Homo sapiens: one gene and its partners. The protein of the gene in region 4 interacts with the protein of the main gene of each other region in a biochemical or structural test. Each region holds a gene or a part of one and is shown on either strand. Other genes may lie near its edges.

The links.
Region 1: the proteins of BMPR1B (region 4) and BMP7 form a complex in vitro, tested with the Homo sapiens proteins (2 studies listed by BioGRID).
Region 2: the proteins of BMPR1B (region 4) and BMP4 form a complex in vitro, tested with the Homo sapiens proteins (one study listed by BioGRID).
Region 3: the proteins of BMPR1B (region 4) and BAMBI form a complex in vitro, tested with the Homo sapiens proteins (one study listed by BioGRID).

Annotation. Positions count from the first base shown.
Region 1 is NC_000020.11:57,221,623-57,228,643, reverse strand, and holds part of BMP7 (bone morphogenetic protein 7 preproprotein), read left to right. Parts: intron 1-222; coding exon 223-415; intron 416-7,021. UniProt on the Homo sapiens protein: Growth factor of the TGF-beta superfamily that plays important role in various biological processes, including embryogenesis, hematopoiesis, neurogenesis and skeletal morphogenesis.
Region 2 is NC_000014.9:53,953,820-53,961,427, forward strand, and holds the start of BMP4 (bone morphogenetic protein 4 isoform a preproprotein), read right to left. Parts: upstream 3,007-7,608; 5' UTR 3,002-3,006; coding exon of another isoform or gene 2,940-3,001; 5' UTR 2,731-2,939; intron 2,510-2,730; coding exon of another isoform or gene 2,082-2,509; exon of another isoform or gene 363-2,081; intron 1-362. Other genes in the region: uncharacterized protein LOC124903317, read left to right, coding at 2,082-2,509.
Region 3 is NC_000010.11:28,673,205-28,680,537, forward strand, and holds the start of BAMBI (BMP and activin membrane-bound inhibitor homolog precursor), read left to right. Parts: upstream 1-4,316; 5' UTR 4,317-4,693; coding exon 4,694-4,769; intron 4,770-7,333. UniProt on the Homo sapiens protein: Negatively regulates TGF-beta signaling.
Region 4 is NC_000004.12:94,753,664-94,760,966, reverse strand, and holds the start of BMPR1B (bone morphogenetic protein receptor type-1B isoform b precursor), read right to left. Parts: upstream 3,013-7,303; 5' UTR 2,899-3,012; intron 1-2,898. UniProt on the Homo sapiens protein: On ligand binding, forms a receptor complex consisting of two type II and two type I transmembrane serine/threonine kinases.

The DNA of each region.
Region 1 (7,021 bases), on a different chromosome or scaffold from region 4:
CATGCTCTTGTCGTTCAGGATGACCATGGGGACCATGGGGTCTGAGCCTGTGACCCTCCAGTCTACAGTGTGTTGGTGAGGAAGGAGCAGTTGTCACTGGGGTCACTGGCAATGGGCATGCCTCCATCTAGCTTAGGCAAGATGCTTGGACTCAGAGCCAGAGAGTGAAACCCAGACACTAATGAGCTGTCGGTGTTGGTGTGTGTTCTCTTCCTCTTCCAGTGGAACATGACAAGGAATTCTTCCACCCACGCTACCACCATCGAGAGTTCCGGTTTGATCTTTCCAAGATCCCAGAAGGGGAAGCTGTCACGGCAGCCGAATTCCGGATCTACAAGGACTACATCCGGGAACGCTTCGACAATGAGACGTTCCGGATCAGCGTTTATCAGGTGCTCCAGGAGCACTTGGGCAGGTGGGTGCTATACGGGTATCTGGGAGAGGTGCTGAGTTTCCTCTGGGGGCAGAGGAAGAAGGTGGTGAGGGCCAGAGGATGGGTCAGATTGGCACAACCACGTGCCAGGCCCTGTACCAGATTATCCCTTCTAAAGAAGGTGTATGGTGTATGTCACTTCCTTAAAACCATGACCGACAACAAATTCAGGAATAGTAGAAGGCCAGGGAGCCCAGGGATGCGTGGTGCCTTGTGGGTTTTTATAGGCAGTCTAGATCTGGCTGGGTGCTAAGGGACATAGAAGAAAAGGGGAAGGGGAAGAAACATTTTTGAAGGGCTACCTCTCTCCCGTTTCTCACTCTGAAACCCAGTGCACGATGTCAGGCAACCAATTAAGGTGGCCATCTAAAATAAAATGTTAGGGGAAGAAAAAAACCCAAACCAAAAAAAACAGAGAACTCTTAGCCTTCCAAGAATCACTAGGTCAGAAACCAAACGTTTGTGTTGAAAGTCTTTAATTTATCGAGATCCATTAATTTCAAGGTCTTGTGAGAGGTAAGGAGGCTAAGAAAAAGGGCTGGGACATTTAGCAGGTGCATTCTATTCAGACAGTCCCGAGGCAGAAATGACCAAGGTCCTATTACTCAGTGGCTGGGTTGCTGGACCCCGCAGGCTGTCAGACATCTACCGTCCCCACTGGGCAGGGAAATTGATGGAAGAAAGGTGGTGTGGGCACCTCCTTGTGATGTGCAGGCTTAGCATCTTCAGCTAGAAAGGGGACTTGTTACCATAGACAGGGACAGAAGAACCATCACAGCTACGTTTGCCAAGCACTGCTATTTGGTGCTGGTGGGGGGTGGGGGTGGGGATGGTCATCTAAGTACCAAGAAAACAAAACTGTTCTTGAGCGTTTCCAGAGTGTTTTGCACTTGATATCTTGTTTCATATTCACAGTAGCCTTCAGAAGTGGTGGCTTATCTGTAAAATGAGGAGAACTAAAGTGACCTGAAGCCAAAGAATGAGGCTACCCAGAGAGAATGTGGCCACATTAGGACGTGAGCCCAGGTTTGCAAAGCTGGAGCCCATGCTTATGAAAGATATTTCTTTCCAAAATTTGTTTTTAGGCCGGGTGTGGTAGCTCACGCCTGTAATCCCAGCACTTTGGAAGGCCAAGGCAGGTGGATCATTTGAGGTCAGGAGTTTGAGACCAGCCTGGCCAACACGGTGAAACCCCGTCTCTACTAAAAATAGAAAAATTAGCCAGGCATGGTGGCGGGCGCCTGTAATCCCAGCTACTTGGGAGGCTGAGGCAGGAGAATTGCTTGAACCCAGGAGGAGAAGGTTGCAGTGAGCCGAGATGGTGCCACCGCACTCCAGCCTGGGTGACAGAGTGAGACTCTTTCTCAAAAAAAAAAAAAAAAAAAAGTTTTTGAGTAGGCAAGACATGTTCATGGTATAAAATCAAAAGGAAAGAAGAGGAACCACAGTGAAAATGAAGGCTTCCAGCCCCTGCTGAGGTGGTCCCTGATGCCAGTTTCTTGAGTCTCCTGAAATCAGCGAAGGAATCTGTGTTGCTGTTTTCACCTGTGGAACCCCACAGTGCACTCACTCCTGCCTCTGGCTTTCATCGTTGGATGATGAACCTTGGCAGCCCTTTCCAGGGGTTCACACGGGGTGCCCTCATCCTCTGAGTCACCTCACTGTTCCACGGCTTGGGTTGTGCTGTGTTTCACGTGTGCACGCTGGCTCCTCTGTTCTATGATGGATGGTGCCGCAGGGCAAGTACCCTCGCTGACATACGTGTTCATGTCTATCAGTCAGATAAAGTTCTAGAGATAGAATTGTGGGGTCAGAGGGCCCACACATGGGTGGCTTTGGTAGACACTGCTGAGCAGCTCTCCTGGGAGGTGACATCGACATCTACTCCCAGCAGCCAGGGAGCTTCTTGCTTAGGATGAAACCACAGCCTCTGTGTCCAGGCTGTTATCTGGATTCTCCACTCAGCTCCGGCAGCTCTTGGTCCTTCCTGCTGGCTTTGTGGGCACCTGGTCCCATCATGGTCTGTGGTGCCTCTGCTGTCTTGCCTGAGATCCATGGGGTGGATCCTGAGGGCTGCAGGGTTGGGCAGCAGGCCTGAGCACTGTGTTTGGAGGAGGGATGGGCGTTCCAGGCGTCCTCCCTGCCAGGCTGCCGGCAACAGGCAACTTGGGCTGGGGGTGCCCATTCTAGTGCTGGGGTCCTGCTCCTGGGGGCTTCTGGGCTGCTGAGTGACTGAGTCCCTCCTCAGCACAGGTACCTGCTGCATGCCATGCCTGAGGGCATCGACCAGAACGAACCAGACACGAGTCCCTGCCCTCTGGAAGCTCACGTTCCAGCAGAGGAGAGGACATGGCAGGTGGGAGCATTGAGCAAGGAAGGGAATAGGGTGAGAAGCAGTGGAGGGCAAGACGGAGCTGCTTTCTTTAGGTTTCTACATGTTCTTCCTGTGCCTCCTGCAGCAAAGCCTCCATTCTTCAGAAGTTAAATGGTTAAATTTAAAAAATATATTATTTATTCATTTTTCTGGACAGGTTGTTTTGTTTTTCAACCTAGAACCAAGATGCCCCTATGATGTAATTCCCCAGCTATTAAGAGCATGGATTCAAATCCTGCCACCAGCTACCCATGTGGCCTTGGGAAAGAGTCATCTCTCAGAGCCTCAGTTTTTCCCTCTGTAAAATGGGGATAATAATTGAATCTCCCTCCCAGAGTTGTGCTGTGGATGAAAGGGGGTGACATACTTACAACAGTGTCTTACACACAGGAAGTGCTCAATAAATGGTCACCTGCGTTAGTATCATCATCATCACAGCAGGAAGTGGAGCAAGACCTCTTTAGGAAGACAAGAGCCCTGGGTGGTGGCTGTGGCACTGCCTTCCCATGTAGGTCCACCGAGCCAATTCCCCTAATTCTGCAATCTTCCAGTAGGAACAAAGCCCTGAGCTTGCAAATGCTCTTCAAATCCCCCACGCTTCCTCCAGCTCGCCTGTTCAGAGATAGGCTTTTTCTTTGCATGTCCCCAACCTGGTTGCATGTCCCCAACCTGGGCCCGCACAGCTTCTTCCAGCTGAAGGCCTCCTGCAGACCTCAGCCCGGGGGAGCCCAGAGCCTGCCCTGCTGTCCCCGCCATGTGGCTGCCTCTGTCTCTGTGCCGCCAGCTGCCCAGCTGTGCAGGGCTGGGACATCTGACGAGCTGTGCCTGAGCTCCAGGAAAGCCCCGGGGGTGCCGAGGATTAGCCGGCTTTGGGTCAGCCTCAGCGTCTCTCCCCTTGTGGGAGTCACTTTCCACTGACTCCTCTTGATCTCTCGGAATCCAGATTAAATTCCGATAATGAGCCGAGCTGGAGGCCTTCCATAGCCCTGCGGCTCTGCTTAAAGCGCGGCCCCAGACAGCTGGAAAGACATGTTGGAGCCGCCCTTGGCGGGCTGTGGAGCGAGTGGGGGCTCAGAGGCAGGTCTGGGGACAGTGGCCTTGGCTCCAGAGGCCTTGCTGGGGTGAGAGGGGGCTGCGAAAGGATCGGAGTCTTATCCTCATTTTCTGAACCCCAGGCCTGAGGCCAGGCCAGCTGGGGCCTGGCTTCCAGGAGCTGGACTTGCTCCTGTCTCCATTGGTGCAGACTTTGGTTCCAGGTGAAGGTGAGGATATTTGGGGTAGGGGTTGTGCTGTTTGCCCTGTTTCTGCTGTGGAGCTGGGACCTGGCATCTTCCATCCCAGTCTTCCCCGTCTCTCCTTGAGCATGTGTCAGGCTTGCCCCACTCCACAGCGCTGCCCCACATGTAGGCGACACACTTCTGCTTTGGGAGCTGGCCTCTGAGAACCTCCCTGGGAGGCCAAGGCCAGCCAGGGCAGCAGAATCTGCTCCAAGGGAGTCGGCCGCCACCAAGGTCGAGATGATGTTGGCAGCTGGATGAAAATGTCCCTGGGTTCATCTCAGTGATTTTGGCTGCCAGGAGGGTGACCTCAGCGTGGTCTCGAGGGCCAAGATTTGGATCAGCTGCAGCCTGAGTCACTCTGAGGAAGAGGGAGCTGCCCCCTGCCTGTCCCCACCACACAGGATGGATTGGCAGAGGAGGCCTGGGCTCAGTTTCCTGGGTCCCTTCAGCCCAGGCAGAGGCTCTTGCCCTCGACTAGCCCTGGGATGGGGGCCCTGAGTTTCTGCCTTTCTGAGAAGCTCCCTGGGGACGCCGTGATGATTTTGGTCCATAAACCTGAGAAGGTAGGTGGGGCTGGATGTGGTAGGAGGAACGATGCAGCCCCCTCACAGGGCGGCCCTCGGGCAGTGGGCCAAGGGCTCCTTGCCCAGTCCTCTCCTGGGGATGCTGGGGTGGTGGCAACTTATGATGTGCGGATTCATGACTTGGTAGCAAGACTCTGGGCGGGTTTTGCCCTGCCGTTAGCCCCCATGAGCGTGTTTGGGCAGAGAGCCATGGTCACGTTCCAGAGCATGTCTCCACCCTGTGGTTGAGGCTTCTTGTTGCGTGGTGCTTACTGTTTATGACTGTGCTGGACACTTCAGCTTTGTTTCATGCCTTGGAAAGGTTCCTATGAAGATGTATCATCCCCATTTTACAGGTGCGGAGCCTGGCTCAGAGGTGGGAAGTAACTTGCCCAAAAGCACACAGCTACAAAGTGGCAGAGGTGGGGCTCAAACCCAGGCTCTTAGATTTCAGCAGTCACCATCTTAGCCATGGCCGTGCCTCAGTGATTCCCATAGTGCTGATTCCCTCACCTGGGGCTCAGATGGGTCCATTGATGAGTCCTGAGCTGGTTTTCAGCCTTGGCTGTGCAATAGAATCACAGAGGCTTTTAAAACTCCTGATCCGTAGGGGTTGAACTGTCATTGGTGTGCTTTAAAAGCTCCCAGGTGATTCCCTGTGTGCTGGGGTGTGAACAGGTGGCTAAGATCTCTCTAATTTCTCACCCATGAGCTGTCTTACATGCCCAAGAGGAAGGAAAGAGATTCCTTTTTTTTTTTTTTTTGAGATGGAGTCTCACTGTGTTGCCCAGGCTGGAGTGCAGTGGCACGATCCCAGCTCACTGCAACCTCCACCTCTCAAGTTCAAGTGATTCTCCTGCCTCAGCCTCCCAAGTAGCTGGGATTACAAGTATGTACCACCATGCCTGGCTGATTTTTTTATTTTTAGTAGAGATGGGGTTTCACCATGTATTGGCCTTCTGTGACACATTCCATGTTCCCTTCAGCTTGGTGTCTCAGAGAAGACTGTTCTTCTTCCCATGAGACTGAGCCCAAAGTGTAGTCCAGACCACAATTGTCAGTCTCAATGGCACAGGAAAGGGACTGGCTAAGGGTGAAGATCCCTTTGGACTCTGGCTCCAGAGGCTTCTGGAAGCTTCTGGAAGCTTCCAGAAGCCTCTGGAGTTTCTTGCTGCTCCTGAAGGCTACATGCCTGTTTCCTCGTCTCCTGGCTTCTACCCCTTGCCACTACACCTCAGCCCCAGGGCATGAGTTCTGGTTTTGAGCTGCCTTCTCAGGATGTGCCAGGTCAGCTTCCTGAGTAGCCTTTTCAGAGGGCAAGGAGGATTCCTTTTGGCTGCTGGGAACTTCCAGGATGTCCTGGAAGGTCAGAGGAGAGCAGCCCTCATCAAGGAGCCTTGGCATTTTTCCTCGCAGTCCCTTTCTCTGGGCCTCACTCCAGAACCGAGACTGAAGCTGCCTGAGAGGGAGTGGCAGGCCCTTAATGCCTTTGGTTCCGCTTGGGGTCCTCTCATGGATCTGCAAGGATCCCTCTGGAAAAAGCCACCCAGCTGGGCAGAGATGGCAAACCACTGTGTTCAATCCAGTTAATGCCAGAGACACAGCCAGTATCCCCTACTCAGCATCTGGGGGCCAAATGCCCGTTGGCTTCCTGTCCTGTGGCCTGAGGCCATCTGGTGGGCCTTGGTGGCTTTTTTTTATCTCTGTCCCTGTTATTTCTTCCCATAATTCATCCCGAGCCTGGCTTCACAGGGAGCATACGGGTGGTGGCTGGGAATCGATGGCAACAGATTCCGTTTGCTGAGTGTTTGCGGCGGGCGGGGGCTCAGCAGGTTGCCCACATTTTCCCTGATTCCCCGTAGGTGTTATATCACGTTCAGTGAAGCCGAGCGGGTGTCCCCACGAGGTGGTCAGTCCTGCCCCTCTTGTAGACCACCTGTGGGAAAGGTCTGCTCTCTTTACGTTTCCATCGATTTAGCTGGGTCCACAATGCGATCTTGGAGCCTCCTCTCTCCCATGACACTTGTCTATGCTGGGAGAAGGGATGGCTGCCTTTGGGAACAGTCATGATGACAAAAGCTAATTGCATGCAATGGGGGCTCTTTACTGCTTCCCACAACAACCCCCCATGGAGACACCCTTATCCCTGCCCACCCCTCTTTTTTTTTTTTTTTTTTTTTTTGAGAGATAGGGTCTTGCTCTGTTGCTCTGCTGGAGTGCAGTGGAGTGATCACAGCTCACTGCAGCCTCGACCTCCTGGGTTGGAGCAATCGTCCCACCTGAGCCTCTCAAGTAGCTAGGACCATAGGAACACACCACTATGTCTGGCTAGTTTTTTACTTTTGTAGAGATGAGGTCTCACTGTGTTGTC
Region 2 (7,608 bases), on a different chromosome or scaffold from region 4:
GGGGCCGGGAGCGAGGTCGGGAAAGTCTCACCCGCCCAAAGCCTCACCACCGAGAGGCACTTAAAAAGGAAAGCGCAGAGGGACCCTGCCCACGCGCGTGTACACACACACCCCCCCACACACACACAAGCAAACACGAGCTCCCCGCCACTTCCTCCCCAGGGTCTCCTCAAGGCCAAATATTGCTCCCAATGACAGCCAGTCACCCCTTGGCGAACGCCTGCTAAGGCTCCGAAGAGCCGGGCCACCGATCTAGCTCCCGGCTGAAAGCAGCCGACCTTGTCACGCGCGGGGCCGGGAATGGGAGGGAGGGTGTTAGAGGGTGATCGCTGTGGGAAAGTGAGAGGGAGCGGCTGTTAGTCATTGCTCCGGGTCCATTACCGAGAATCCCCAAACCTAGTCCGCCGCTGCGTGGCCCCTCTCCCCATGCAAAGCAGACCCCCGAAGAAGCCATGCCAGGCTGAGGGACAGACGCCGGGGCTCGAAGCTCCGGGCAGATTCAGAAAGAGGCGTCGCTGCAGAAAGGACGCATCACAGTTTTCAGATCTTAATGTGGCCGAGGTTTTACAACTCCCGACCCGGCGCAGAAAGGAAATCCCACCATGTTCCCCGGAGTCGAGAAAACGGTGAACAGCTTTCGGCCTGCGCTCGACCTCTGCGTCTGCGTCTCTCTCGCCTCGGCTTCCCTTATTTTTTAAACCACCACCACACTCCTTCCCCCGCCACTTCCTTCCCCCACCCCCTTCCTCCGTTGCACCAGCAGCAGAGTCGCACGCAGCAAATACTCCTTCAAGAATTTTACCTACCTACAGTTCAAGCAGTTACTGGGATGTCCTGACTAATCGAAGATGCTGCCGCGCGCGTGGGTCGCTCTGCGCAAGGGCCTCTTCGAAAACCCGACTAGGCGCAACTCAGCGTTCAGCAGGGCCGGGAGCGCCAGGTCGTCCCCGGGGCCCGGGCCCCATGACTCCTGCCCCAAAGCCCACTCCACCCGACCTCCCTTTCCTGAGGCTGTTCCCAGTTGCTGCTTTGGGTCGCTCCGGAGCTCAAGAACTCGGGTTGCCTGCCGCCCCACTCTCCACGCACATACTTGGTTTTCTTCTTAGGGGCATTGGCAGGTAGACTTTGAGGAAGAAAAGTAAAGGATCGAACAGCTCAGCCCTCCCTCCCGACCGTGGATGCCCGGAGTCGACCAACACCTCAGGTCCGGGTGCGGAGGCCGCGGGCGCCCCTGCGCGACCGTCCGCGCCCGGCAAGAGCCGCGCGGCTTTCGCCTTTGCTGGTCCCGCGCCACCGCTGGGGCGGGCTGCGAAAGGGTTGGGAAGAGCAAAGGGTTTTTTTGTTTTGTTTTGAGACGCAGAAGCCCTTTAAAAAGCCCGGCGAGGAGAGGTCCAGAAGTAGAGAAAGCAGACGGAGGCAAGCTGTGCCCGCGGGGCAAAGGGACAGTAGAAGGGGCGGGCGCCCGGGTTCCCCGGAAAACCCTCGGCCCCAAGGAATCTCCTGGGGCGGGAGAGCGCGGTTCTAAAACCGAGAGGATAGGAAGGGGAAGGGGGAGTTGTGTTTCAATTTCGGATTCACCAGGATTCATCTCTAGTCACATTTTTCTTCTCAAATTTTTAAATCGAAAAGATAAAAGCCAAAAGAACTTTCATCCCCAGAGCTTTTTATTGGGGGAAAGGAATGTAACTCGGGGTGGTTGTCCTTCACTTCCCTACTCGAATCTTCTCCTAATGCCGAAATGTGTTTACAGGTAGCCTCAGTTTACCAAGTATGTATCTTTTGGGGGTTTAACCTCTCACAAAGCCTTCAACTCACAAACCGCGATCCTTGGAAACCATCCTCCAAAGCAGTGCTTGGAGGCCTCTAAGGCCCCCGGACCAACTCCCGCTGGAAGAAGCCTGCAGGGACTCGGGAATCACGGGAACCTTTCCCGTCGGTTCCGGGCCTGGAGGGCCAGGAAGAGCCGCGCGTCCGCCTTTCGTCCCGCCAGGAACTCCCCATAGGACACGACACCGCAGGAACAAGCGTCCTGGGAGCCCCTGGGATCTTGGCTGTCGTCTCTAGGGACCCTACACCGTGAAATGATAGAGGCGAGGTTCCTTGGGTTCCGCAAGTCGACGAAAATAGCTCGTGGAGAAGGCGCGTCCTGCAACTGCAGTTCGCAAGCTCTCAGGGCGCCCCGCCAGCTGGGGGCCAGATTGGGTGACACTCCCCTCGACGCAGCCTCCGGAGCGGCGCGCACTCTCCAGAGGCCAGCAGGACTGCGCTCTCTACCGCAGAACCTGCTCCAGCTAGGTGTTCTCTCCCCATCTCGCCGTCGCTCTGCCCCCTCACTCTCTCTGGACCTCAGAGCCGGTTCTCTCCTTCCTCCTCCCGCGCTTTCCGTCCGGGGATCGCAACCTCCAGCCCGTGGGCAACGCGTTCAGCCCAAGACCCCACAGTTTTTCCCAACGACCCCCCTACCAAGGGCTTCTCTTGTTTCTGCTCTCCTGCCCCGCACTTCCCAAAGGTGAGAATCTCCCAGGGACTGCTGGACAGAGAAGGCCTGGGCAGGGGCAGTAGCCGATATTTAAAGGTCTTTCAGCGCCAGCATCCCCACCTCCAGCACCACTATTGGAAAATAATTAGGCCACCTTTTGCCTCGGTCACAGCCTGTGACCAGCTTCTTCCCCCCAAGGAGGCTCCTAGACCCCCTCTGCCTGTCTCCCCTCACCAGGTAGCCTTGCTCACCATAGGTCCCTGCAGTAGCGGGCTCGCCAGCAGCAGCTCCTGGGGACCTCTGAACGGTTGCAGTGAACCTGGGCGAGGGCCGGGGACTGTGGCGCTGCAGGCTCGAGATAGCTTGGACGGGAATCCCATCGGGGAGACAAGCTAGATACTCAGCCGGAGCAGCAGCGGCGTCTCAGGCTCGCGTCCCTCAGCTCGGATGCCACACTCACCTAGCTTCCGGGCCGGGCTCCGCGCTCCTTCCCTCCCTCCCTCCTCCTCTGCCTTCTCGCATCTTCCTTCCTCCTCTTTCCCTCCCTCGCTTTCTTTCTTTCCTTCCTCCTCCTCTTCCCCGGCGGCCCCTCCCTCCTTCCCTCCTCCCTCGCTCGCCTCCCTTTCTGGGGATGGGAGCCCCGCCCACATCCTCCCCTCCAGCCGCCCGACCTCGCCTAGCAGGCCCGGGTCCCGGAAGCCCAGGCAGCGCCCGAGTCCGCAGCTGCCGTCGGAGCTGGGACGCCGCTGCCTCCAGCTCTGGGAAGCGGCTGGGGCTCACCTGGGGACCACGTGCGGAGGTACTAGAAAGCATGCACCGACTAGTCGCCGTACCTTCCAAAAATACCCATGGGAGTCTGGGCTTCCCTGAGTTTAGTGTAACTGCTGCCCAAACTGATGATTAAAACACTGAGTAATCACCATTTACCCTGAGTAATTAGAGATAATGAAACACCTCTAAAATCAGGTTATGGAGAAAGGAGCTGTTGGATCGGTTTAAAAGGTGGCCTTCCATAAACTGTTAAAAGATTTCCAAACGTTGAGAAACAGGCTGTGTGCAGAACTGTGTGCCAGAGAGAGATACCTCTTGGGCTGTTAAAAGGTGAATTTCCTTCCAAAACATTCTTAAAGTGCGTTTTGTAGAACACCTTGGTGATGACCCTGAGGTAGACCCCAGTAAATGAGCTCACTTCCCTCCTCCCCCCAAGGCCTAAAGACAGAGGTGGCCTGCAGACAGGCTGGGGCCACGTTTTTTACAGTTAGAAAAATCTGTTTCTAGCTCAGAAGCCGTCTTAAGAACCGACACAGCAGTTATTTTTGTTGGTGTTATGGTTGTTGTTGATTTTTTTGTTCATTTTTGGTGTACCTAAGAGTCCTGACACTCTGTCTTTCCAAGGAGATAACCACAGAAGCAGTAACCTTTTAGGCCACAGGGAGACAAGAAAAGATGCCCCTTGGTCTGTTTTTAAAGGAAGAGGGGAGATGAGGAATTGGCCCTTTCATATAAAAACATTTTAGTAATCATATTAGCAGGGAGGTGGAATGTGGTGGCTTTTAAACCTTCCCAAACAGGAACTAATTTCACACACTGCCTCTGATGGAGCTGTGAGGGAGCTATCAGCCTCATCTCTCTGTTTTACAAACAAGGAAAGGCAGGACTACCAGGTTAAAGGGACTTGCCCAGATCTCTGAAGTAAATCACAGCCTCTGCTCCAGAGCTAATGCTTCAGGGAGGGGTTGAGGCTCATAGCCTGAGCTCCAGGTAGCCAGAGGAGTGCTGGAAGACTGAGCATTTCCTGTCCTGGATTTCTTTCCCTGGGACAGACATGACACTTTACTGTCTCTGCAAAGCATTTAGGTCTTTACTTAAACAGATATTGGCCCTGGGTGGCTCATCTATAAAAACTTTACGTTTATACACCTTCGATATTTAAAAAACAAGAACTACTTCCTGTGTGGAACACAGATTACAAAGGGTGGGAAATATCTGAGATCAGAGAAGCAACTGTCAGAGCAAGGCCAAGACATCCTGCCATCTTTTCCATCTATTAGGCCTAGGTCTTTTGGCCTAATGCACCAAACAACAGAAACAAGCTGTATGGCTTTGGGCAAGTCTTTTCATTCCTATGAGTCTCAGTTTTCTCATCTGCAGAATGAAAGGATTGGGCCAGATCATCTGCATGCTCCCTTTATATTTGAAAATGATTTGATTATTTAATTGTAATTTTAGCCAAAGTCCGTCTTCCTTCATTTTAAGTCACTCCTGAGTTCACTTTCTCTAAGAACCACTGATTAAAACAGGGCAGGGCAATAACACCACCCCAAAAGGAGGACAAAATATACCTGTAGCTTCCAAATAGTCAAAATCACAATTAATTATTAAAAATAATAACAGAAAATTAAAACTCCATTAAATAGTTACCTAATGTTTCTCCTGCAGCATCAGGCATTGTGCTCCTTTAGCATGGTACCTGAAGTCAGGACAGATTAAATGCTCACTGAGCCCCTAAATCAATCACTGTTGTTTTAATCATTAACGAAATGTGGTTCTTAATATTTAAACTCAGAAACAACAGTGATATGCTGGACTTAAAGGCAGGACTTTATTTTACTTTAAAGCACCAATGTCATTTCGGGGTTTTTTTAATTCCAAAGGTTTTTGAATGACAGCTATTGTCTCATTTTGCTGCAGCCCAGACACTAAAGTGGCCACTGATTGGCCCATCCATGAGTCTGTGACACTCACAGTCCAGGAGTTTCCAATTAAGCTACCCGACATACCATGTTTAGACCCCTGATATGAATCTTCAGATATATGACGAGAGAACTCAGCTTTAGTTCTCTTGGGACAGCTTTATTTCTCTCCCCACATTTTAGATGGGCGCAAGCCATCTGTTATCAGCTGCTTTTACCCACTCCTCCTTTTCCCCCCTTACTCATGCCAAAGAACAAATTACTTGTTGGTTAGAGAGCTAAATCAACCACAGCCTAGTGATCAGAGTTCGTGAGAAGAATCAGTTTAGTTATTTTCTGTATCTCAAACTTACCTGTGAATTTTCATGTTTTTATAGAACATGGTAGATAGACCAAATGAAACTGTACCCTTAAAGCACATTGATGAAGAGGGGAAACCCACCATAATTCAGGAGCAACTATTGCTCCTATGCTGCTACTACTCAATGAAAGGCATTCCTTTGTTGGGTTTTTCCTGGAGAACATCAAGAAAGAGTAGCTGGTCAATAGCCTGTCTGCGAGCCCTTGGGACAGCCTTTTTCAAAGCATGTTCTCAGGACTATAAGCCTCAGAGTAGGGTGGGGGTGCAGATGAAATGCAGACTTCCTGGTCCTGCCCCAGATCTGGACCCAGAAATCTGTATATTTCACAAGGTTCTCTGGTCATTCTGAGCACACTAAAGCTTGAGAGCTACTGTTTTAAAAGTTATTTTGTTTCCATTTTCTATGCTGATAAGTACCATTAAAAGGCTGATACCAAGACATCATTAAACAGGCAAAGAATATGCTGGGCTTGAACTTTATAAACTGTTAAATATGGCAATTATAGTATCACTATGCCCTGAACACACCAAATAGGTCTATGCAAGTGAAAAGATAATCCTATAGATACAGTAGCCCTTAATTCCCCATCCCCAATTAAGAACCACATCAGGTCTTCAAACCTTCTTGGCCAATTAGGTGTCTGGTGAAGCTACGGAAGGAATTCCCAGAATCACTGCTAAGTTTTGAGAAGCAGTAAGATAGATCAATTGGAATTGGAATTCGAATTCGAATTGGAATTGGAAGTGGTCTCTGAAATTGGCTAGAAATTTAGTTTTCCTCTTATTAATATTTATCATATCTTATATATTTGCCCTATATATCTCTAGCCCTTACAACAACCCTTATAAAATCCCTGTCCTACAGATGAGAATCTGAAGTTTAGAGACGTTATGTAAGTTGCTCAAGGTCACAAAGCTAGAAAGTGGTGGACCCCAAGTCCAAACCATGTCAGTCTGTCTCCTCTCCCTGGGCAAGTGAGGGGTATTGTGGATGGATCCCCGAGGCTTATCCTGGAAGCTTTCCCCAGGCCAAGGCACCAGCTGCTGCTCCATCCTGGCAGCATGCTATTACCAGGAATTTCAGGATATCTTCCCAAGTTCTTAGATAACAAAACAAAATCAAGACCTAGAAGTTTGTTTCTTCCTGACGTTACTATATAAGCCCGCCTTAGGGCAAGACTTTTATGTGACCTTTCCTGAGAAAAAGGTTATGATCTTGAGAAAGGAGCTCATTATCTCTGCTGGGTCCAAGTTTCCTCATTGTAAAATGTGGAGCTTGAACAGGGTCCTCACAGGTCTTTCTCAGGCTCTGGAATACAGAGACAATATATCCTGGTAGTTAAAATCACAGTCAAATTGCTTAATCTCCAATGTCCACTCATTATGCTTTGTCTATATAGATCTGACCCATGAACATAGCTGTGCCAAGATAACTACTCACTGTCAAAATCATACCTACTCTGAGCAATTAGTTTTTACTAATAGGCTGAGACTGAATGACATGTCCAAAAAGCATTCTCCGTCTGTTTTGCGGATTCCTAACACCTCTAACTTTTAAGAATTTTTTTTCCTGTCCCTCAAGCTAAAACATAAACTCATTTTCTTTATTCTGATCTAAAGATGAACTTTTAACCCAATTGCACAAGTTGTTCCTTCTCTAAACATTTAATATTGTTGCCAACCTTTGATATGCCTCACTCAAAGTAAATAATACTGGATGCTGATATTTTCTCATGACAAAAAGAAAATCCAATGCTATTTCAGTTCCCTATGTTTTAAATTGCTGCCTTGATACTTTCTGGAATATGGTCCTTTCTATAAAAACCCTTCAATATTAACATCCAAGCCAGGTGCGGTGGCTCACACCTGTAATCCCAGCACTTTGGGAGGCCAAGGCAGGTGGATACCGAGGTCAGGAGATCGAGACCATCCTGGCTAACATGGTGAAAACCCATCTTAACTAAAAATATAAAAAATTAGCCAGGCATGGTGGCGGGCGCCTGTAGTCCCAGCTACTCGGAAGGCTGAGGCAGGAGAATGGCGTGAACCCAGGAGGCGGAGCTTGCAGTGAGCTG
Region 3 (7,333 bases), on a different chromosome or scaffold from region 4:
TAAAATGCCAGCCAAACGTGCATATCTTCAAATATTTAATGCATTTTAACGAGATTTATGGACACAGGTTATGAAGAGAGTACACCCTAAGTGAGGTCATCAATGAACAGAATTCTTGTTCTTATCCTTGGTATTAAGGGAAGAACTTCTGATGCGCTTTTCTCAGATTGTATAATCTTCCTTTGTTCTATCTGGTCACCTAACAAATAAGCTCCTATTCTGCTATGAATCCCTTAAACACAAATAACTCTCTGATAAGATAGTCAAGCTCACACCTGTAATCCCAGCTACTTGGGAGGCTAAGGTGGGAGGGTCACTCGAGGCTAGAAGTTTGGGACCAGCCTGGGCAACATAAGGAGACTCTGTCTCAACAAAAAGTATAGAAATTAGCCCCATGCAGTGGGGAGCACCTTAGCTACTTGGGAGGCTGGGGCCAGTGGTTCGAGGCTACAGTGAGCTATGATTGCAGCGCTGTACTCCAGCCTGAGTAACAGAGGGAGGCCTTCGTCTCTAAAAAAGCAAAAAAAAGCAAGTAACTCTCTACTCTCCCATTCACAATTTAGTGCCATTTAGTTACATGTTTAGCCTATAATTTCAAAGACATCATTTAAAATCTTTAAAACATCTATACGGCCAGCATGGTGGCTCACACCTATAATCCCAGCACTTTTGGAGGCTCAGGCAGGAGGATTGCTTGAGCCCAGGAATTCTGAGACCAGCCTCAGTAACATAGGGAGACCACCATCTCTACAAAAAAATTAAAAAATTAGTCGGGCATGGTGGCTCGCGCCTATATATATACATATATATCTCCCATGGATAAATTATATCTTGAATGCTGTTTGAAGGTAATAAAAAACTATTCTACTGTTTAACGGTTTCAGTTAGGTCTAGAATCAGTTTTCTGTTCTTGGGTATAGAGAGCTTGTTCCTAGGTATTTTCGGAATCCCTTTGTAGATGTAAAAAGAATTTTGGTCGTTGATTTCATTTCTTGCTTTAAACTTCAAAAGGACAGTAGATTGTACTATTTTTTTTCCCTCTACTTATCAACCTACATGTAGGAAAGTAATAACTGAATTATGTGCAAAGCATAAGTAAAATTCTCTAGAGAAGCAATTTTCCTTAAGAATGTTAAATTGAATTAAAATTGTTGCCTATTCTCTCAACTATTGATATGGCCTTATGATTGACACATTATCCCTAAACTGATTTTGATATTCTACATTGATTCAAACACTCTGATTCATTTAGTTGAAAAGTCCATGTCTTCCCCAGAACCATTAGATAAAGTGCGGACTTGTTTCTCTTTAATTTCTGGTCATTTAGAAAGTTTGCCCATTAATAATAAAAACAAAATAGTTGAAATCATTGTCTAAAAAATGGATCCCAAGTTCTTATTCAGAATTGGACTTGGAACAAAAAAATATATACAACCTGGAGTGCTCAAAGTCAACATTAATTCAATAAAATACAAATATCTTAGTTTGGTTTCTTTGGGTTGCAAGGAAAAGAACCTTAAGTAAAAAGGGGACTTTATTAAGGTTACTGAATTAACCTAAGGACAAGAAGTGACGCTGAGTGCCTGGAAATCCATTTGGATTTATGTATTTGCCACTTTGCATATCTTCATTATTTTTCTTCCTCTGCAGACAGGTGGACTACAGCTGCCCCAAAGCAAAATTTTTATGTCTCCCGTGAAATGACCTCAAGGGACTGAGCAGCATGTCTGCTCAAAGACACAGAAGAGAGAATCTAACTGACCTAACCTGGGTCATGTGACTAGCTATGGCCAGAGATTAGGAGATCAGAGTCTCCTAATCAGGTTGCCAACGCCCACTCCGGGAAAAGGGACATTCTCTGACTTGGGCTGGGAGACACTCAGAAAGTGTCTACTAGAATGCAACTTTCACCAACACATTCCCCAGACCTCTTCCATTAAATATTTATCTGTATCAAAGGGAAGTATAGTTCATTTCTGATACGTCTCTGTTCACTTCTTCACATTTTATGCTGCAATCACAAAGACTTGCTTGTCATCCCAACTACCTGTTCGCTGCTTACCACTCCTACTCACCTACACAATCATATTTCATGCCTAAGTCCTGTGGTCCTCTGTGCTTGTAATGGTCTTCTTCCAATCCTTAATGTCATTGCTTCTAGACTTTACCGGCTCTCTTTACCTTCCTAGACTAGTTAACCTCTTTCTTTTAGGCATTGTAACATCATGCACATAAATCTCCATTATTGTCCAGCTCCATTGTTTTGAGATTTACTATCTAGTTTCTGACATCTTTATACCCCCAGACATTGCAAGCCTCGCCTACGGTGGGAGGCCAGGTTGAACTAACATACCCTGAAAGTTTCCTTTTAGCTAATAATTGACTCTAAAAGAGAGTGTAATCATTACATAAAAAGTATTGTCCTCTGGGCGCGGTGGCTCACGCCTGTAAATCCCAGCACTTTGGGAGGCCGAGGCGGGCGGATCACGAGGTCGGAAGTTCGAGAGCAGCCTGACCAACATGGCGAAACCTCGTCTCTATAAAAATACAGAAATTAGCCAGGCGTGGAGACAGGTGCCTGTAATCCCAGCTACTCAGGAGGCTGAGGCAGGAGAATGGCTTGAACCCGGGAGGCGGAAGGTTGCAGTGAGCCGAGATCGCGCCACTGTACTCCAGCCTGGGCGACAGTGCCAGACTCGTCTCAAAAAAAAAAAAAAAAAAAAAAAAAGTCTTGTCTGCATAAAACCCTTACAATTGTTAACTTGTCAAGGTTCTAGTAGCCAGGAAGTTCTAATCAAACTCGGCCCCAGGACTGCCTTGTCAGCACGCCCCTTGAGAAACTTTTCTGAGAAACCTGCTGTTTACCTGGTGCCCTAACCAGTTTAATTTTCTTTTAAAACTTCTACTGGATTTCTCCTTCTCTCCTTTTAGATGCAATTTTGATCTAGAGAAGTAATGGTCTGAGCATCAGTTTATGAAATTATTTTATTTTTCTGCACATAAACATTATTTTTCAAAGACAATTTCATTAACTACATCCTGCAGCTCTGCAGACTTTCAACAACTTTAAAAGGTTAGGCGTTTGAGATATGTTCGCCTTGACTTTCAGTCCTCAAGACATATGTACATTTTTCTTAGTCTCAAAGCTCATGTCTGCACTCTAGTCCTAAAGGATTTGTCTTTATAATTCTCACCTTAGCATGAAATGTGCTTCTCTTTCTTTCCTTCCCCACCCCCCACCCCCTTTTGACATATCCGGTAGGGAAGCTCTGGCAGATTCTCAAGAAGAATTTTGCAAATGGTCGACTTTTGTTCATCTCAGGTTTTGGAGGGAGAGGATAAAAGAACATTCCCTCAGATAATGAGTTTTAACCTTAATTCCTTCCAAAGCGGAGGGGGAAACAAAACTACAGCAAGACCACCTTGAGTACCTTGGGAAGGGCAGCCCCGCGATCCCTAATAAATGAATTAGCATCTCAAGGAGGAGATCACTGCGGGGCTGATATTGATCAGGGTCAGCCGGCGTGTTTGCCAGCCATTGTTTGGGGGGTGGTTAATTGAGTGTCAGTCTCGGCCAGTGTCGTCTCGTTGGCGCCGGGTGCTTTTGGATTTGCTAATTTTCGTTAAGTGTCTCTAGCCCGCTACTCGTCCCGCGTACCCGGGAGAACCTAGCGGCTCCTAACGGATCAACAGTCAGTCTGTCTGGGCTTTATTGATCCCATGGCGGGCAGCTCGAGGCGGACACGCTGAGGGGGTGGGGGGCGAAGGCTGAATGCAGACCCCAGCGCTGGGCCGCCTCCCCCGGGCTCCCACCCGAACCCTCCTCCGCCACCTGCACAGGCCGGGGCATTGTCACTCGCCCCTGGGGGTTCCAGAAAACGCAGTGCGGCCGGGGAGGACGACCACACGGACCCCCTGCGTGTTTCGGGGGGCACCCAAAAGAAGCCCCGCGCTGGGGAACGCTGACCACCCGAGGCTGAGCCGTCAGGGTCTCGGAGGCGGGTTCCCGAGCCGGTCCCGGGGCTGGGCTCCCCCGGCGCCTCGCGAAGGTCACTGACGCGCAGGCCTCCGCAAGGGGGAGCGCGGGAGACGGCAGCGCACCAGCCGGGCGCCCCAGCCGGGCGCCCCAGACGCCGGCGCCGCTCGGAGCCGCCGGGCAGGTCCCCCAGCGCTCGCGTCTGGGCCCGCCCCCCGCTGCGGGGCGGATTGACAGGAGCCCGGCGGCCAATCGGACGCCGTGGGGCGGGGCGAGGCGGGGCGGTGCAGGCCGGCTCCCGGCGCGGGGCGCTATTTACGGCGCGGAGCCGGAGAGACCTGGGCTGGCGCGGGCGGGAGCTGCGGCGGATACCCTTGCGTGCTGTGGAGACCCTACTCTCTTCGCTGAGAACGGCCGCTAGCGGGGACTGAAGGCCGGGAGCCCACTCCCGACCCGGGGCTAGCGTGCGTCCCTAGAGTCGAGCGGGGCAAGGGAGCCAGTGGCCGCCGACGGGGGACCGGGAAACTTTTCTGGGCTCCTGGGCGCGCCCTGTAGCCGCGCTCCATGCTCCGGCAGCGGCCCGAAACCCAGCCCCGCCGCTGACGGCGCCCGCCGCTCCGGGCAGGGCCCATGCCCTGCGCGCTCCGGGGGTCGTAGGCTGCCGCCGAGCCGGGGCTCCGGAAGCCGGCGGGGGCGCCGCGGCCGTGCGGGGCGTCAATGGATCGCCACTCCAGCTACATCTTCATCTGGCTGCAGCTGGAGCTCTGCGCCATGGCCGTGCTGCTCACCAAAGGTGGGTGCCGGGGGCGCACGGGGCCCGGGGTCCCGTCCTCGCCGCGGGGCTTTGGAGCCGGCTGCAGAGGCTTTGTTAGCGGCAGGCGAGGCTCCCTCCTGCGCCGGAGCCGCAGGTCGCGACAAGTTGCTGTGTTCTTAGAAGTCGCGGCGGTGGCCTGGCGCGTGGATGCGGACTCCGATCTAAGGGCAGGCGCTGATCAGAGGGTCCTCCTGGCTCTGCCTGCGGGGAGCGGCGCGTTTGCAGCCCAGCGGGGAGCGGGGCCGGAGTCTCGGCCTCGACGCCGCCGCTTCCGCACCCTGGGGGCTCGGGCGGCCGGGAGGAATCGCAGATCCTGGCCTGTAGCTGCCGCGTGCCCTCAGCGTGTCTGTGTGAGTGCCTCAGGGTGTATTTCTGTGAGTGTGTCTCTGAGTCTCAGTATCCCTAAATGCATTTTTGTGTCTCTGAGTGTCGTTGTGTTTCTGAAAGTGTGTCTGAACCTCTGTATCACTCAGCGTATCTCTGTGTCTCTTTGAATGTATCTCTGAATGCATTTCTGTGTCTCTTTCTGAGTCTTTGTGTCTCTGAATGTGTGAGTCTCTGTATCTCTGATCTTGAGTGTGTCTTTCTGAATGCATTTCTGTGTCTGTCTCTAAGTGTCTTTGTATCTCTGAATGTGCATCTGAGTCTCTGTGTGAGTGTGTCTCTGCGTACATCTCTCTGTGTGCGAGCGAGTGTGTGGGTCTCCCTGAGAGTTTAGGTGTCCGAGGTGTGCAGAAGTGTGTGTTGTGTTGCTTTTCAGCAGCCGGGAGGAGTAGGCTCTGTCAGCGTCTCACTGCCACTCACCTCATATTTTACAAACAGGACCAAAAAAAAAAAAAAGGCAGCGGGTCAGTTTCTTCTTTCCTCTGCAGGCTTTCACCTTTTAGAAAGAAATAACCCGAACTGTCTCCGAATTTCAAGGTTCTCCTCACCTCCCTGCTGTGAAATCTACCTACTGTTCTGTGAACAGATAATTTTTTTAAGTAGGAAGCAGTTTAGTCTTTGCAGCCCCCTACTTCTCTTTAATTGCTATGTAGCAGGCATGAGGTTAAAGCATAAGCTAGCCCAGCGAGGATGATGTGCTACAGTATTTATTTATTTTGGAAGGAAGGGTGTAATTAACCCTAAATAACAGCCCTTGTGGCTTGCAGAGGGGAGCCTCCTGGCCCTATCAAAGGCGGGCAGAACAGGGAGGGACTGAGGCTGACATGAAGTCACAGATACCGAAACTATGTGCCTGATAATGATATAATTAGGGGATCAGAGATTTCTGACGGCTGCGGACTTCAAAAGCTTTAAAAGAAGCCAGCAGTCTCTCCTGTAGCCATCTTGACTAAAGCAGACATTTTTGTTTAATCACTACATACAGTAACGAGAAGGGGACAGAAACAGAAGGGCATTGTTCCACAGTTTCAAAATACCAGTCCCCTTTCTGGCCTTTTGCATGCCACAGGAAGAAACTTTATGAACGACAGAAATATAGTTTTAATACAGTGGTACAAAAGTCCATTCTCCTTGCTTAAAATGTGGCTCCAATTAAAAAAAAAAGGTAGTTAGAACTTTCCCAGTTACCTGTCAAAATTTTATTAGGCTGTTTTTAGGTCATTGAAAATAGGCTCTCATAAACATTTAAGCAGCATTTTACTTGTATTCAGTCTTCCTTTTCTGTACAAGGTCTGAAGCTAATAGGGTCAAAATGGGCTTTTAATCTGTTTTATTTATACTTTAAATCTATATATGGAATTTGTCAAACTAGGGATATGTAGTCATCACCCCAGAAGACTGGTGAGCTTTATGTGGAAAATAAAGTGAGCTTGGAGGGAGGAGGAGAAAGAGCAGAGAAGTGGTTCTGCAAAGCAAGGTTCTTACTTGAAGCAGAGAAGGAACTTGGGCCCAACCAGTGCAGATTTAGGAGCAAGACCCCTAGCTTTGGACTGTTAAGGGTTGCCAAAGATCTGTGTTTAGCGGGCTGGTTTTCCTTAGAACCGAAGCATTAGCAGCGTCCGGTGAAAACTGAGCATACAATACCGTGGTCTGGAATTTGGACAGATAATTAAATGAGACACCTTACTGGGGCGTTCAGAGAGAGGGGGAAGAATAAAGGTAAGGGTGGGAAGAGGTTTGTAAAACAGCAGATCCCGGTGTTTAATTTCAGAGTGGAGGTTTCGGATCTTCAGACGGGAAACTGGAAGAGGCGTGTGCATTAGTTTAGTTTACTCGCTGTGGCATGTGACAGCGACCAGGGTCCACTAGGTGGATATTGTATTAGTGAGAACTTGAAGACCCAGATTATTTCAACGAGAAACTGATATTAAAGCCTCCAATCTTGCCCTGCGACAAAATGTGAACGGAGCCATGCAACTCACAAAATAAGTTTTTATAAAGGAAACTTTTAATCACTTCCTGTAGAAAATTTGAGGTTTCCTTAAGGATTTTTCATTCAACCAGCAGAGGATTTTCAGTTTCAGTGTTTCCCCTTTTAGATCACATGTCGAATTACATGTAAAACTTGTGAGGAGGAGGAGGAGAAGTTAGCCTTGCAG
Region 4 (7,303 bases):
TTATTAATGTGTGTGATGACATGCTAAGACTCTTTCAATCCTAAGTCTATGATCTGCTATTACACTATTCTTAAGTATTTTCCTTGAGCTACTGCATCCACAAAGAATCAGTATCACAAGTTAGAGGTAATTTGGAAAAGAACCAATCGTCCTACAAGGATTTCTTGAGTATCTATCACATACCAGGTACTGTGCTGGGCATCTGAAATTCAGAGAAAAAGAAACAAGGGACACTATCTCACCTCAATGAGATAACAGTCCAACAAGGAAGCGCCAAGCAAGTAACCATACAGCACAGAGGTGGACACCGAAAGAGGGGCACTCAGAAGCCTGAGAGGCAGAGGCAGTGGTGAGGGGGCTTCTGAAAATCAGGAAGGCTCTGCTAGGTTGGAGTAGGTGACAACTGACTTTAGATTTGGATGATAAATACGATTTGAGTGCTCAGAAAGAGCTGGAGGAGGTGCTATATGTGGCAAAAGATAAGCACATTTTAAACTGCCTTATACTTTTAAACAAATAATAATAAATCAGCATTTACTGTAATAAAAATACTTTATCAGGCCATCTCACACAGTTCCCAAAGCTTATGAGGAAAAATTTAAGTCAATTTCCTTTTAATAAATATTATTTAACGACTGGAACATTTAGAGAAACATACATAAGCAGGCCGTGGCAGCACGTCACTCAGGGACAATAATCTAACAGGGAATTTCAGACAACCTAGCCTAGACTAAATGCTGGGCAGCACCTGGCAGACAAGGTGGCAAAGCCCCTATAAATAGTGATGATTCACTAACATGACATAAATCAAGATTTTAACTCACCAAAAACTAACATTTTGATTTAAAAACACAAATCAGTGCCATTAAAATTCATCAGCGGCCCCTAGCACATGAGTAATGAGATCATATCAACTTATATCATGTAACTAAAAGGAAAAGGTGGTTTTCTAAATGGTAATTCAGATTGGACAAATAACACACTGTATCAAGTTTTGTAGCTCTAGGCCATATTTTGCTAAACACAAAGGTACATTATGCATGACTAAAGAAAACAGTGAAAATCAGAGCAATTAATTTCCCAGCTATGTTTCCCATAAAAAGACATCACTACTATGATCTGCTTATAACACAAACTTTTTTGCATTGCACAATGATCTAAGTGTGTAATAACTTACATATTTCACTAAGATGTAACATCCTTCAAAACATCCTTATAATGAAAGTTTTCCAAAAACATTATTGATCACCGGCATGTCTCATGTTTTAAAATTACTGACGAATCCTTTACTATTTTCTTTACAGCTAGAAATAATTCTTCTTGATCACTAGAGTGTAAAGGGGTATAAAGTACAAAGACTGAATATTTTCTTAAATACTAACATCCCAGTTGACACAGGACATTTCCCATAACTTGCCCAAAACAATAATTAGGAGAGTTGTCACTGGAATCCTAAAAATATATGTAAGAAAACAGAGATTCGTTGGCATCAATTTAGCACAGCAAGAGATTTCCATTAAGTGCTTTTTCAAATTATTTGCAAACACTTTTTAGCTGAACCCTCTCATTTCCAGTGGAGCCTTTTATGTTTCTTTGCAGAACTCAAGAACCTTTTCTCAGGTGGCTCTGCTTTGCTGCAGGTAAGTTTGGTATTAACACATTTTCTTTATCTGTTGGAGGTAGTGAAACGGCTCTCTTCCTCCGTTGTCTTTCACTGGCACCTTTGTGGCCGCTCGTAGTCACTGACCTCACCTTGCTGGAAAGGTGGCTAAGAAAAGAGCAGTTTCTAATAACTCAAGGGAACTGCAGCGTTTCCATTCAGAACAAACAGCAGGACCCAGCTGGAGGGGTGCAGCTCTAAAGAAGTAAGACCCGCACCACAGCGGACAACTTCCAGAGGCTCTTCTCCAACACCGCCAAACACAGGCGGAAACACGGAGCCTGGACAGAAAGAGGGACGAGCAGAGAGATGGGCGCAGAGAGCAAGAGACAGGGGAGCCAGGAAGACCGGGAGCGAAAGCCTCTTGAGAGAGAGAGAGAGACCAAAAGATTGTGCGAAAGTGACAGAGGGAAGAGGATGAAGGGACAGAGGAGGGACACACTGGGAGAGCCAGAGCAGGCGGTGGGGAGAGGGAGACAGACGCACGGAAGGAAAGAGAGACCGGGGGGAGAGGCAAAGGATAGCAATAAGGAGAGGAAGGGAGAAAGGAAGAAAAGGGAGAGAATGAAAGACCCAGAACTTGAGAGAGAGGCATAGAGAGAGAGAAGCAGGAGAGAGAGGAGAAGAGACAGGCAACTGAAGCAGAGACGGAGCCCAGTCCAAGGCGCCGGGACCAGCCCGCTGCGCACTTTCCCCCACGGCAAGGCTGGGTCTCGGGAGGCGTCCGGGGCAGGTGGGTGCCTGCGGGTCCCGCCTGGGCTGGCCCTGGGCCCCCGCCCCGCCGGGCTCCCTCCCATTTCCCGGATTCCGCGACTGCCCTCAGCTCGCCCTCCCGCCCCATCCCTCCGCTCGCAGGTCCGACTCCCTGCCTTGGGGCGTCCCTACAGCCCGAAGCACGTGTCCCGCCCGCCGCCGCCGCTGCCCCGACTCCTCGCCTGCGCAGGCACGAGGCCTCGGGGTCCCGGCAGAGCCGCCCGCGCACAAAGCCGAGGCGGCCACCGCCTGACCCCCTCCCCGCCGCCGCCACCGCCCCACGGCCGCGCAGCCCGCCCTCGCTCTCGCCCTCTCCCTCGCGCGCTCCGTCCTGCCTAGGGCGACCGCCGCCCAGCTCCGCACCCAGCCGCTACCCGTCCCGCGCCGCCCCTCGCTCTGCCCGGCTCTCGCCGGCTCGGCCGCCTCCCGCGCGCTCGGGAACTCGGCCACCCGCAGGGGACGGGGCCCCGCCGCGCGCGCCTTACCCGCGGCTGCGCTCCCGGCTCCCGCGTCCTCAGCGCCGCGGTCTCCGCACTGCCCGGCGTCCCGCGAGGCCCCGCCGACTCCGCGCCCCGCGCCCGGCTGCGCCGTCAACTTCTGGCCGCCGCGGCCGCTCCGCCGCCGCCGCCGCCGCCACCGCGGGACTTTTTTTTTTTTTTTTTTTTTTTTTCCCTCTCGCTCCTCGGCTGCCTCTGGAATTTTTTTTTTTCACTTGCCCTCTCCAGCTCCCACTAGTGATTGGAGACTGAGAGCCAAGTACTTAGCGGAGGGATTACACTTCTCAACGCACTTGGAGCGGCCCCAGCGCCGCCGCCTGTGTGCGGAGTGCGGAGCCGACTTGGGGAGCGGCGGGGTGCGGGCCGGAGGCAGCCCGGGTACAGGGGTGCGCTTCCCAAGCCCCGTCCGCTGCTCAGAGCATCCCCAAGATTTCCCTCATGGGTCCTGTCCTGGTTGTTTAAGAAGGTTTCCAGAAAACCTCCTGGTTTGAAGAACAAAGATTCGTGGAATTATTGTACCTTGAGAGCTGGAAAGGGCTCGCAGAGATGATATAATGTCGTGGATTTCAACTTTTCGGGGCCATAGACACTTTTCAGAAATTGATAAAACGTTGACACACCTTGTAAAAAATGAACACATTAAAATTAAGCCTGCAGTTTGAGGTGGGGGTTTTAAGAATCTTGAAATATATACAGTTGAGCGTCCAAGGGAAATGAAATATTTCCCTTCTACATATTTTTTGAAACCGTTAAACGAAAACAACCACCAAAAAATTAAAAATAAAAAAATAAAACCCAAAAGAGAAAACCCATTCCATTTGTATTTGATGACAGTTTACAGTTAGTCGTGTTTCTTTTGGAAAAGTATGTAACGTCTTATACTTTGTGGTCTCCTTGCTAAGTCTTTAAGTGTTGAAACACTTTCTAAGTGGGTAAATATAAAGTAAGCTAGTTCACAGTCAGAAATTTGGGGAGAATAGTTAACCTCTTTAAAATCAGCCATTTTGCCAACTCTATTTCCCAGGGAGATATCTCGTGACTTCCAAATACTCTTTTCCTTTCAATACCTTTCAGCTTCCCACTCTCCAGCATTACTTATTTTCTCCTTCTGTAAAATTTTTTTCCTCCAAAATATTGACAAACAGTCTCTGGTCACCACCAAGTGTGTGATCTAAGTCATTTTTTTTTTTAACAGTTTTTCACCCTGAAGTAACTTTCTTCCAATTTTCTTCATATCTATTTCTATATTCAATTCTTAGCCTACTATTTTCTTTCAACTACTCCCTTTTCTTAAATTGTTTCTATTAAATCTTTTTTAAACATTAAATGTAATCTTTTTGCACTTATCAATAAAAAATTCATTTGTGTATCAATTTATTTTATGCAGCTTGCACTTAAAGCAGGCGGTGCCCCCAGTGTTTATTGAGTGTATGAAGATGTGGTCATGTTTTTTCTATAAAAGCAATGTTAGAGTCTCCACAAAGGTCTTTTTGCCCCATGATATATCTGCATTGTGATTTCTAATGCCAAACTGGAAGAAGAAAGGTATCTGAAAGAAAATTTCCAAAACAAGTGAAATTAGTCATTGACATCATCTGACCTTCCTTATTCAACCACTGTTCCAGTCCCCAGTACCAGTACTCATCCTCTTGCCCCAAGAATTCCAAGATAAAATCCATTCATTTTACTCTCATCCCAATTCTTCTCTGATACCCTCACTCCCACCCCTTCCCTTTTCCACCTCCTTTCTTTCAAAACAATAAAGCATATGACTACCTAAATTACCTTCTACCTGGTCCTCAATCCAATTTTTCATCATCTCCATCCTCATATTAACTAAGTGTTTTGTGGGGAGAAGGGGGCTTGAAGACACGGAAATTATAACTTCTACACCATTAAAATAAAAGACAAAGCAAGGAATTATGAGCTATTATGTAATTAACTAAAAATAATAAATTATCGAAAATGAAATGTGAGTTTAGAAATATGAGTTTTAAATATTGAAAATAAGATACCAAATTATAATTCATTACAGAGCTTATGATTGTATACATAGAAAAGCTTAGAGAATTTACTGGAAATCCATAGAACTAAAAATGTAATGTGTTGATCATTGTCAATATCTCATCAACATTAAGCAAGTTTAAAGAGGAAAGAAACCTGATTGAATCTATCCTTTCTACTGTGTGAATTACTGATAATTTGTATTTGACAGCTGTATAATCTCCCTTAGAATTGGAGCACTCATAAACTGCAGTGAAATAAAGCAGACATTATGCAGAATGTTTTGGAGCTAGTGGTATTGTCACCTGTATCTTTTCAGAAGTTGCACTAAGGATTATCTTTCCTTGGCTTAACTCCTCCATTCAGCAAATATCCTTCAGAGAATCTGCTGGGTATAAGATACTGATTCAGGGAATACAGGCATCTCTGGATAGAGAAGACACAGATTCCACTTCAATCAACTTGCAGACAAGGAGACAGATTTTTTTAAATACCTTGTTTAAATATATTTTTTAAAATTCCAAATCAGAGAACAAAGGAAATTCCTGTAGGTCTTTGGGATGAAAAAAAAAAAGCACTCCAGGTGGGAGAAAATGGGGTACAGGGGAAACTGTGTTTGAGGTGGGCCTTAGATGGTAACATTTCTGTAAGCAGGAATGGGGAGCCTTGGAAAGAAGCTATTCAAAAATCAACATTTTTGAGTGCCTATGACAAACCAAGTCCTGGTATTTGAGAGGCAAACTCTGTCCATTCCTTCTTGAAACTCATAATACAGAAGAAACAAGATACTTAAAAAATATATAGAACTTTCTATGAGAAGTGCATTAATGCATGAACACACAATTTTTGGAGCATAGAAAAATGAACTATTCTGCCTAGAAATCTCAGGAAAACCTTCCTAGAGTAGTCACATTTCATAAGGGTCCTGAAGGATCTTTAGAGATCAAAGCGGGGCTAGAAAGAGAATAAACATCCTAAGCAAGGAGAACCCTATGAAAAAGCATGGCGTGTTTAGAGAACAGCTGGTATCTCAGTGCTGCTATCCAAGTGATGAGGAGAAGGTGCAGCAGATGACTCTCTTAGGCTAAGCAGGGTTCAGAAATAACCTTCTCAAACATACTAATGAAATTGATTTTTTCCTTATTAGGTAATGGAGAAGCACTGGAGATTTGTAAGCCACGGAGTCAAATGGTGGACTGGGATTTTCAGGAGATCATTTAGAGGTACCTGGAGAGGGAGAAATGAAAGCACAAAACTAATTAAGGGTCTGTCATTGAAAGAAGGAATACTTGAACCAAGACAATGGTGTAACTACCAAGACAGCAGACTCAAAAGACACTTCCTATATTGCTAACTGTAGCCTTGGATTTTGGTGCCTTTAAAGGCCATAGGAGCCAGATGTGGTGGCATATGCATGTAGTCACAGATACTCAGAGGCAGAGGTGGGAGGATCCCTTGAGTTCAAGACCAGCCTGAGCAACATAGTGAGACCCCCACATGCCCACACCATATCTAAATAAATAAATAAGTAAATAGAGACCACTGGGGGGAGAAGAATAGAAAGGAGGGGCTTCATTGGGTGCATGACAAATTTTAGCAAAAGCAAGATTTTTTTCCCCTCTGCTTCTACATAAGGAAACCAGGGCAGTGTATATAGGACTCTCAAACACTTGCAGGCATATTTCCCATTAAGAAAGACATTTGCCCAGGCCCACTGGAATTGAACTATTTGGGGAATTTATAAGTAGAGAAATAGGACAGACCTGGGGACACAGCTTGCTTCTATGCTGTCAGCCTCCCCTTCTCCTTCCTCTTCATGGATATCCTCACTCCTACCACTTTCCTTTTCCACCCCCCTCTTCTCTCAAAACTGAAGGTAAAGGATTTGACCACCATTAATATATTGTCATAAATCAAGGCATACAATGCTAAGTAACATTCTAGAACATGTGCTTTTAAACTATTTCTCTCTAATTGTGGAATAAAAGTCTGCCTCTTTTCAGGTATGGTATTTTAGGAATCAGGTGAAGGAAATATTTTTCAGTGTAAGAAAGAGATCTTTTTCTTGCTCTTCTGTTCCTACTGCTGTGGTTGTCTTATTGTCCACTGCTACATGTTGACTCTACATATACAAAATAAGTGGTTAAGCCTCTCAACAAACAGAGTATTTAAATTTTTGCTTGTTAATATAATAACTTGGTGAAATGTGTACCTTCCATAATAAAAGCCACATTTATGGAGTGGTTACCATGATACAGGCACACTACTAAGTAGCTCACATTTATTATCAACCTGAGGCCTCATAATAAGGTATTATTTTATTTCCATTTTACAACTGAGGAAAGCAAGGCACAGAGAAGTTAGATAACATTCCCACGGCCATGCTAGA